Linked DNA regions of Homo sapiens. The protein of the gene in region 1 interacts with the protein of each later gene in a pairwise test. Each region holds a gene or a part of one and is shown on either strand. Other genes may lie near its edges.

What was found.
Region 2: the proteins of TAF12 (region 1) and PRKAR2B interact in binary tests that used the Homo sapiens proteins (3 or more experiments, as listed by UniProt).
Region 3: the proteins of TAF12 (region 1) and CLIC6 interact in a two-hybrid assay, tested with the Homo sapiens proteins (one large-scale study listed by BioGRID and IntAct).

Annotation. Positions count from the first base shown.
Region 1 is NC_000001.11:28,618,915-28,622,567, reverse strand, and holds part of TAF12 (transcription initiation factor TFIID subunit 12), read left to right. Parts: intron 1-402; coding exon of another isoform or gene 403-486; coding exon 487-654; intron 655-3,653. UniProt on the Homo sapiens protein: The TFIID basal transcription factor complex plays a major role in the initiation of RNA polymerase II (Pol II)-dependent transcription.
Region 2 is NC_000007.14:107,047,590-107,051,242, forward strand, and holds part of PRKAR2B (cAMP-dependent protein kinase type II-beta regulatory subunit), read left to right. Parts: intron 1-3,653. UniProt on the Homo sapiens protein: Regulatory subunit of the cAMP-dependent protein kinases involved in cAMP signaling in cells. Type II regulatory chains mediate membrane association by binding to anchoring proteins, including the MAP2 kinase.
Region 3 is NC_000021.9:34,671,951-34,675,603, forward strand, and holds part of CLIC6 (chloride intracellular channel protein 6), read left to right. Parts: intron 1-3,653. UniProt on the Homo sapiens protein: In the soluble state, catalyzes glutaredoxin-like thiol disulfide exchange reactions with reduced glutathione as electron donor. Can insert into membranes and form voltage-dependent chloride-selective channels.

The DNA.
Region 1 (3,653 bases):
CTTGCTTCCTTGTTTAAATTTTGTGGACTATTTCACTTAATATTTGGAAATGAGATGGTTTCTAAATATCAGCTGAGAGTAATAAACATTCTTCATTCCCTCAATTTTTAACCTGTGGATATTAAATGGTCACCATTCCATATATACTGAAGAACCCTCAAAGTCTAACAGACCTCATTTTACTTACTTTTTTTTTTTTTTTTTTTTCTTGGTAGAGACTAGGTCTCGCTATGTTGCCCAAGCTGGTCTTGAACTACTGGGCTCAAGTGATGCTACCACCTGGGCCTCCCAAAGTGCTGGGATTACAGTTGTGAGCCATTGCACCAGGCCTCTTTTTACTCTCAAGATTCATCCTTTATTACAGGTTCTTCTAGAGCTAATTCTTGTGCTTTTCTTCTCCAGTTAATTGGCCTTGGTCCTCACAGCTCCAAAAAGAAACAGGATCTCGATAAGCTCTATGAGCTGAAGTCCAAAGCTCGGCAGATTATGAACCAGTTTGGCCCCTCAGCCCTAATCAACCTCTCCAATTTCTCATCCATAAAACCGGAACCAGCCAGCACCCCTCCACAAGGCTCCATGGCCAATAGTACTGCAGTGGTAAAGATACCAGGCACTCCTGGGGCAGGAGGTCGTCTTAGCCCTGAAAACAATCAGGTATCATCCTCTTACTCTTTCTTCTCTGTAGCCACTTCTTACCTATTATTTCAATCTGTAATACTTTAAGAGATGTCCATCTCAGATGCTGCTTTTTTCTCTTAGCCGAAAAGGTCTTTTCCCTCTTTTGGATTTCTAACTTTTTTTGTTTGTTTTAATATAAGTAGAGAGTTTATTTGGGCCAAATTTGAGGACTCCCAATTCAGGAGACACAGATTCAAGTTGTCCTGAATGTATACTCCTCTGGGAACATTCTTTAGCAAATTATCATGTACAATGTTTATTAATTACTGTATTGTATGTGGTTGTGTGTATGCATATATACATCCATCCATCCATCTGTACACACTAACACAATACCTTGCCTATGAAAGGTGTTTTTTTCCTTTCATTTTGATAAGTGCTTTATATACATGTTAACCATGTAGTTGTTAAATAAAATAATAAATTGATTCATTATTCCTATGATAAAAGTACTCTTGCTTCTAGTCATTCCATCTTCTAGTTCATCCAATTGCTGCCATTATTAATTTTCTGCAGTGATTCTAAAATCTGCTCCATTCTTTCTACCCATAATTCTGATTCTGCCCTCCAGAGCCACAAGAAATAAGTATAATCCCTTTGACTTGTTTTTTGTAGGCTGTGTAGAATGGATGAGTTCGCCCAGTATTTCAAGGGAATGAGTGGAGGGACTTGCAAAGATTAATGAGAGCGGGTTGGGCAGTCAGGATATCAACCTATGTTGAATATGGAGTCTGTTGTAGAAGACAGAATTTAAAATTGTATAGGTAGGGCAGAACATAGTGGACCTGTACTAGTCAATTTCCATTGGAACTTTTAGGCAATATACAATCTTTGCAGATATTTAATAAAGGAGTAAAAGTAACATAATAAAAATAGTGTGTCCTATAGAGGATTAACTTGGCAGTAAGGGGACAGGATGGGTAGAAAAGGGGGTTAGACTGGGTGGATGACCAATTCTAAGATTTTTGCAATAAATCAAGACATGTAGTGAAGGCTCGAATTAGGTGATAATGATAGAATGAAGAAGAATGGATAGATATGAGACATCATTAACAAATATTTATTCATTTTTTTTAGAGAAAGGGTTTTGCTCTGTTGCCTGGGCTAGAGTGCAATGGTATAATCATAGCTCACTGTAGCCTCAAATTTCTGGGTTCGGCCGGGCATGGTGGCTCAAGCCTGTAATCCCAGCACTTTGGGAGGCCGAGGTGGGCGGATCACGAGGTCAGATCAAGACCATCCTGGCTAACACGGTGAAACCCCGTCTCTACTAAAAATACAAAAACATTAGCCAGGCGTGGTGGCAGGCGCCTGTAGTCCCAGCTACTCGGGAGGCTGAGGCAGGAGAATGGCGTGAACCCAGGAGGTGGAGCTTGCAGTGAGCAGAGATTGCGCCACTGCACTCCAGCCTGGGCGACAGAGCGAGACTCTGTTGCAAAAAAAAAAATTATTTTCTTGGGTGTGCGCGGTAGCTCACGCCTGTAATCCCAGCACTTTGGGAGGCCAAGGCAGGCGATAACCCAAGGTCAAGAGTTCGAGACCAGCCTGGCCAATATGCTGAAACCCCATCTCTACTAAAATTACAAAAATCAACCTGGCATGGTGGTGCACACCTGTAGTCCCAGCTACTCAGGAGGCTGAGGCAAAAGAATCACCTGAACCCGGGAGGCAGAGGTTGCAGTGAGCCGAGATTACACCACTGCACTCCAGCCTGGGTGATAGAACGAGATTCCGTCTCAAAAAAAAAAAAAATTTTTTTTCTTTTTTCCTTATTTCAAAAGTTATATGTGTTCATCACAGAAACTTCAGAAATACACAAAGAATAAATAGCCTATAATTCTAATGCCACCACCCTAAAATAGCCATGGTTAGCATTTTAGTGTATGTCTTTTGGTGTTTTTCTTTTTTTCCTCTGTCTGTCTCTCTCTCTTTTTTTTTTTTGAGACAGAGTCTCGCTCTATCACCCAGGATGGAGTGCAATGGCATAATCTTGGCTCACTGCAACCTCCTCCTCCCAATTCAAGCTATTCTCCTGCCTCAGCCTCCCTAATAGTTGGAATTATAGGCACCCACACCATGCCCAGCTAATTTTTGTATTTTCAGTAGAGACAGGGTTTCGCCATGTTGGTCAGGCTGGTCTCAAACTCCTGACTTCAGGTTATCCACCCGCCTCAGCCTCCCAAAGTGCTAGGATTACAGGCATGAGCCACCGTACCCGGCTTTTTTTTTTTTTTTTTTTTTTCAGTGGAATTTTACTAGAAGGTTTAGAGCAGGAAAGAAAGGAAAGTACACTTGGAAGAGACTCAAATGGGCACTGAGGAGGTCAAGTGCCTAACTTTTTCTTTTTTCTTAATTTATTTTTTATATATTTTTTAGATTTTTTTTTTTTTTTGAGATGGAGTCTCACTCTGTTGCCCAGGCTGGAGTGCAGTGGCGCAATCTCGTCTCACTGCAAGCTCTGCCTCCCGGGTTCACGCCATTCTCCTGCCTCAGCCTCCCAAGTAGCTGGGACTACAGGCGCCCGCCACCACGCCTGGCTAATTTTTTTTTTTGCATTTTTAGTAGAGACAGGGTTTCACCGTGTTAGCCAGGATGGTCTCAGTCTTCTCACCTCGTGATCCGCTCACCTCGGTCTCCCAAAGTACTGGGATTACAGGCATGAGCCACTGCACCCAGCCATTTTGTAGATGTTTTTTTTAAATAGAGATGCAGTCTCGCCATGTTGCCCAGGCTGGTCTTTGAACTCCTGGGCTCAGGTAGTCCTCCCACCTCGGCCTTCCAAAGTGGTGGGATTACAGGCGTGAGCCACTGTGCCAGGCCCTTTTTTTTGTTTGTTTCTTAAGACATGAGGTCTTCCTGTGTTCCCCAGGCTGGAGTGTAGTGGCACAATCATAGCTCACTGCAGTCTCTAACTCCTGGCCTCAAGTGATCCTCCTGCCTCAGCCTGCTGAGTAGCTGGGACTACAGGCACAGAT
Region 2 (3,653 bases), on another chromosome or scaffold:
AAAGTATGAGCCTATCAGTTTGACATCTATGTCCAGAAATGTGTCTCATTAGAAAAGAACCCCAGATACTGGGCAATTCTGGCATAGTAAAGAATAAGGATTGGAAAACAAGTCTTAATTTACTATGACACAGCACAAGACCTGCTGGGTCAGTAATTCTGAAATTTTCATAGATATCTCAAGGAAGTTTGATTCAGAAATGACCATTACCCTGTACCATTTTTGGAGAGCTTTTTTAAATAGGTTGAGATGGGACATGATATCCTTTTCTTCCCCCTCAGTAGACATCCCACCCAGGTCATTCTGATATCAATAGTTCCATGACTGTACTTTGGAAAACATTAACAGATAGTGATAATACTATATTCTTCTTAACATTTAAAACATAATTGCCGTTAGTTGACAATTGCTGTGTGCTGTCTAAATGCTTTAATTTTTTTGTCTCAGCTTTATGAGAACGATAAGGCCATCACTTGCCCAGTGTTTCACGTGAGCTGCAAAATCAAGATTGGGATACAGGTGGACCTGGCTTCATCCCTGTGCTCTTGACTGCCCGATTCTATCTCCAGATGGGGCTGGGGCTAGCATAACCTGAGTATCCCTTATATGTCAAGCTCTATTTGGGACCCTTAATGTGTTTTATTGTTAAAGCTCTGAAAAATTAACTTGTCCAAGGTCACACATAAAACGAGTAAGTAGGGAAGCCTGATTTCTTACTCTTATGTATCTAACCTTGAAGCCCAGGATGATCAGGGAGTTCTTAAATGGAATTTGTTCTGTGGGCTGACTCACAAGTCAGGTTTTCCTGTTTTTTTTTCTTTTAGTAATGCTGATGGATTTGCATTGTTGGTTCATATCCTCTCTTGTGAATGTCTTTAACGTAAGTGATGGTATTTATGAGAGGTTGGAGTTAAAAGGCAAGTTTTTGACCATGCAACTTGTGCCCATTGACAAACGTAGGACAAACGTAGGGATCAAGCATGTGACCTTGACCTTATAATGTGGTGGTTTAATCAAATAAGCCAGGCACCTGCAGTTAGCTGGAAAAAATGTTGTCTGGCCAGGGGTCGGTGATTTTTGAGGGTCAGGTGGTGTGGCTGTAGGTGGCGCTAGAGCAAACAGTCAGATGGGTGAAGGTCATCTTCTTTCCTACCTTTCCAAAGGATCCCTTCCTCTTCTAATAGCTTTCTTTTCCCTCTCCTATTCTCTTCCAGTCTTATAAATTCTAATTGTTACTTTCCATTTGCTATCAATTCTGGTCGAAAGAGCAAGCTTTAGATGTTAGAATGATAGTGGCTTATGGTGACCCTTTCTAGGGAAACTCTCAAAGGCCAGAAAGAAGCCATAATGGAAACCTCTTGGCATCTACTCTGTCTCCCTCTTCCCCGTCCTAGAGAAAGCAAATACAGTTTGACATGTCATGTCTGAAAGGGTAGCATCCCTAGGCCTTGAATTTCTTAGAAGGTTTACGGTAGGCTATAGCATTGCATCAGTACTAGTTTGGAGTAAAATCTGTGGTAATTCATGATTTTATATAGGCATCATCAAGAGATCTTGTGTTGCCCCATAATTTCTTCAGTGGAATTGCTGAAACAAAAAATGAAGTAAATACCATTCAGATTACTCTGATAAATGGACAAGTGGTCAGAAACAAAATTAACTACACATGGGCACATGCAGAGCAGTCAACCTGGGAGAAAAAATAACTACCGTGATAGAAAATAAAGAGCTGATTTTCTGAGTTATAGAAGAAAAAGATCTAGAGTTCAAAGTAGATACACATACCAAAAATATAGACTCATACCCCATAAGACAAGCATATCAAAAGTAATAAATAGAAATTTACCATGTAATAACTGTGGCTTAATCCTCTTAACTCTGTCCCATGTCCAGTCTTGTTGGAATCTTACCTACCTTTTGGTTTTTACAGTTCAAAGGGAATTTGGAGAATTTACAAAACATCCTTAAGGTCAAGCAAAATATTGTAAAGTTTATATCATTGATATAAAATCTTACAGAGTTATATACTTTTTTTTTTGCAGAATAGCAATTTCATTGTGTTTTATGGAAATGAATCCAGTATTGCACTTCTTGGCGAGGTGAAGCAGGGAATGAGCTTATGTGGCAGTTTTACTTAGGATTTAATGTTATACAGTAATAAAATCCATATCTTTTCAGCTCATAATTTGTAGCTAAGAGCTCCAGGATTTTGTAATTAATGAGACTTTATAGTTTTTGGCTATTAGAGATTTACATGGTGGTTTTAAATCCTCCTGAAATGGATTAAATCATTCATGACAATGGCTAAAATATTGAAGCCATTATTTTAGTTATGAGCATAAAACAATAGTGTCAGAAAAGATAATAAAAATTATTTTGAGTTAGAGATAGTGATTGTGATTTTCAAAGCAGAAGTTAAGAACATTATTCATTTTACTAGTAATAGTAGGTGGATTGCTTTAGGGGTTGAAATTGGGAAACCAAAAAACCCCTTCTCTTACCATCTATTACTTTGGGCTTTGGAAGAAGGGTGGTAGAGGGAGAAAGATAATGAAGTCAGAAGGGAAAGGGGGAGGGAGAGAGCAAGAGAGAAGTAAAACCAGTTGTGAAGGCTTGCTTGAGTAACTTACACTTTGAAGACATACAATGGAAACACCTAAACAGAAATTGAAGCATTAGTACTTTAATTTTTCTATCAAAAACCAAACCATTTAGCTATTATTTTAGATAAGACAGTTACCAGCTTTTTTTTTTTTTTTTTTTTTTTTTTTTTGTGGATGCACATAAATTGATGTGCTGTGTCTGGGTAGAACAGGAGTGAATATTGAATGGTTATTTTATTGTTGCAAATCTCATTCCATGGATTCCAGTAAATTTCCAGCCGTCAAGATTTTGTTAACAGCTATGTTGAAAAACAATTGTGTTTCTTTTTCAGTTGTGCAAATACAAACAGGGGACCTATGAATCCATCAATTTGGGGTTTATTTTTGACCCATTAAGAAAATCGTTTGTCAGTAGTAGTAGTAATAAAGTCCTACAGTGGAGGTTGGGGAATGATGGAATATTTTAAGGTGAGAGATTCAGTGAAGAAGACTGAAGTGACTAACTGCAGGGTCTACTTTAGAAGTGTGGAGAATCACAGAAAGTGCTGAGATCTGGGATGGCCTATTAGAAACAATGTGTGAAACTTGGAAGGTAGGATAGTTCTTATTTTAAGAAAAAAGAAATGATTCGTCTTACATTTACTCTCTTTAGACTTCATTTTTTTCTGTTTTTGTTTGTTTTTTGGTAGAGATGGGTCTTCCTTTCTTGCCCAGGCTGGTCTTGAACTCCTGGCTTCAAGCAGTCCTTTTGCCTCAGCTTCCGAAAGTGTTGGAATTAGAGGCGTGAGCCACTGCTCCCTGCCTAGACTTAAGACACCATCCTTTTGTCAGAGATGGCCTCATAGATAGTATGTATGATCAATTTTGTTAATAGATGGGGCAGGTGAGAGACAGAGAAGTTCCTTATCCAAATTTGGTAGGTTTTGGCCTTATAAATTTGAGTTTGTTCATACAACTGTTGCCAACATTTTGTGCGCTATTTATATTAACTTACATCATATGAATTTTTTCTGTCTTCCATCAAGTTGATTGATAAGGTTTAAAAGGATG
Region 3 (3,653 bases), on another chromosome or scaffold:
GAGAGGCTGCTGGGAAGAGCTGGAGCGCAGTGCTGCTGTGTGACCCCAAATCTGCTCCTCTCCATCACCTTGGTTTTAGAAATTTCCCGTTGCTGTGGTTGTAAGGATACATGATTCTGGCACACGGCCTCTTAGCACAGTTTTGATGGACAGTAGCAGCTTCTGGCTAGTCTCCCTGTTTCAGTTCTCTGTCCTCTCCAATCTAGTCTCTTTGTAATAGCCAGTGAGCTGCGGACAAGATCTGATCATTTTATTTCTTTGTGTAAAATTCTTCAGTTGTTTATTGCAGAATTTCAGGTAAATCCCCACTCCTTAGGCAGCCCACAAGGCCCTTTGTGATGTTATTTCTGCCTTCTTTCTTTCTGGCCTTGGCATTGCTGGGTGTCCCCACCCTTTGTTACCTGTGGTCTCGCTATGCCACCTGGATTAAACTACTTACTGTTCCTTGAGGGAGCCACGTTCTTTCCTGCCTTGAAACTTTCTACATTATGTACCCTCTGTCTGAATGGAGTTTCTCCTCCTCGCCCCTGTCTGCCCTCCTGCCTAGTTATCTGCCACAAGTCCAAGAGTTAGCATGGATGTCATATCTTCCAGTCCCAGTCGGATGACCCTGTTAAGGCATTGCCCTCAGCCTGCTATGTCTCTTTCCTCAGCTGTGTGAAATTCATCATTCTATCTCCAGCGCAGAACACAGGTGTGGGATGTGGTGAAGGCTTGAATGGGCGGCTAGCTGCTGGATAGTGTGGTGATCAAGAACACGGACTTTAGAGCCAGTGGGTCTGGGATCAAATCTTGGCTTTGCTAATTTCTTGCCGTGTGACCTTGGGCAAGTTACTTAATCTTTTGGTATCATTGTGGTCTCATTGATAAAATGGGGACGGTAATAGTACCTAGCCCTTGAGGTTACCGTGAGAAATTGAGAATTAGATTACACAAAGCACTTAGAAAAGTGCCTGGCTGGAAATAAGCTTAGTACACATGTGAGTTCCTATTGTTACATCTGTGCTGCTCGCATAACTTGCACTGATTTTGCACAGAAACAGTTATCCCTGCCATTACTTATTTTATTTATTTTTAGGGAAAATCCCTCTAGGTACGTAATTACCTCCAATCTCTAGGGATAAGAATGTTGTGAAAAGTAAAAACAACTTGCTTCCTCAAATACTGCTTGGGAGGAGTTTGTGTGGGCAGAAGCATGTGGCCTAGCACCAGCAGCGGCCCAGCACGAGCAGCTTACCCACAATGCTTTATTCTGATGATTGATCTGGTGCTCAGTTGCTAACTTTTTTTTTTCTTAAGGAAACAGATAGATCTCCAAATGATGAGATTGGTTAACTTTTTTATTTTTTTTTTAATTGAGACAGGTTCTTGCTCTGTCACCCAGACAGGAGTGCAGTGGTGCTATCTCAGCTCACTGCAACCTCCACAGACTGGGTTCAAGTGATTCTTGTGTCTCAGCCTCCTGAGTCGCTGAGACTACAGGCATGCGCCACCACGTCTGGCTAATTGTTTTGTGTTTTTGGTAGAATGGGGTTTCGCCATGTTGGCCAGCCTGGTCTCAAACTCCTGACCTCAGGTGATCCACCCACCGTGGCCTCCCAAAGTGCTGGGATTACAGGCTTGAGCCACCACACCTGGCTGAGATTTGTTAACTTCTGAGGGGTCACTTATCATGAGCCTCACAGTATTGATATTGTGTCTCAGTTTCTTCTTATCCTACCAATTATGCTCTTTGAAAACAAAATGAAACAAAAACAAAAAAGACAGACATCAAAGCAAAAAACAAAACTAAACAAACAAACAAAAAAACACCCTTTAGACTCATATTTTCTGAGTTTGAAATACTTGATGTAAAATCTGGAAATTAGTTCAGAATAGGATTTCTTTGCCAGAATTAGCCTTTTCTAGGCTCCTTTTTTGGGCTCAGTTTTGTCTGGGTTCTATTCTACAGTGGACACCTGAGCTGGGTTTTGTGAACATGCCTAGATGCGTCTTCATGGTGGGTTTTGTATGGCATAGCTGGAGTGTGGAATTCACAGCTGGGTTTAAAGGAAAGTACTGCAATATTCTCTCAAACATTCTCCTAGCCTTCATATGACAGCTGAGCAAACACATTTTAAAATCAGTTAGCCCATATTTTATTTGGGAACTCCTAGCTTTCACATTTCTTCCAATTTTTTTTTTGAGACAGGGTCTCACTATGTTGCCCAGGCTGATCTCCAGCTCCTAGGCTCAAGCAGTCTCCCTGTGTCAGCCTGCTGAGTAGCTGGGACCACAGGCACACACCATTACACCCAGCTAGTTTTTTCAAAAAAATTTTTGTAGAGACAGAGGTCTCACTTTTTTGCTCCAGAGGGTCTCGAACTCCTGGGCTCAAGTGACCCTCCCACTCTGGCGTTTCAAAGTGCTGGGATTATAGGCACAAGCCACCATGCCTGGCCTCTCTTCCTATTTTGTTAAAAATAAATATATTGGTTACAAATATACCAGAAAGTCATGGCTAACTATGTAGTAACATGTAATAATAATTGTCCCACATTTGCTTCTAATTAGCCATCTAATATATTCTCCATCTTTATGAGAATTGTCATGTTATTAATTTGTCAGTTTGTTTTATTTTACAAGCATGCAAGGATGCATTCTTGTACAGAAGCCAGGAACATATAGAACCAGCCAAGAAAGGTCTTAAATTATTTTGTGGTAAATTAATTGCTGATTATGCTAATTTTTAGTTTTGTTTTCTCAAAGAAGTGTTAATTATTTGTCATCAAATTATAGGGTAACTCTGCAATATATTTAGTAAGAAAGGTTCTTTTTCTTTCCTCATAATAACAAAGGGTAACAACATAATCACATAATCACACAACAACATAATAACAACAGGCAAAACACTAGCAGCAGAGAGTTAAGTAAGAACTTCATTTAAGTAAGGAGTTCAGCGGTAGTGGAGATTTAGTCGCCAAGGAAGTCTTGCTTACGGCTTTGGTTCCCCTAATCTGGCGTGTAAGCTTTGAGTCAGGGTCTTTGGGTGGGACAGTCTGAGCTACGGCTTTCCTGGCAAATTTGACATGACTTAAAAAACTTCAGTGTTGACCAGTGATTAGTCCTGGGCCACCCAGGATTTAGACACCACCTGTTTACTTGTAAACATGCAGTTATTGCTGAGCTAAAAAAACTTGCATTTGTATTCACATTTGGGTTCTCCAAAGAGGTGAAACTGACCCGATGAAACACAGTAAAACTCAAGAAGGACATGGCCTTTGAATAAGCACTGTCACCCAGAAATGAGCCCCCGCCCCTCCAAAAAAAAAAAAAAAAAAGAGCCTTCCAAGCATTGCCATACCACAGGGCTGGGCAAGAATGAGCCAGGACCAGCGTCTGATGGACTCCTGGTAGAACGGTAAGCTGTGGCTCTCTGTGGACATGTCACTGGGAGAGAGCATGTTGGGACTTGTTCTATGGGGCTTGGTCTCCAGGGAGCTTGAAAGGGAGATGTTATTTTCACAACTATGTGTTCTGAAGGAAAGTGAGCAAAGATGCATTTCTGAGACTTTAATTCTCCCCTAAAAACAAATTTTTTGTAATTTTTTTTTATTGTCTTAGAAAACCTGCCTACAAATTACACATATGAAATCAGTACCGGGTTACTTGGG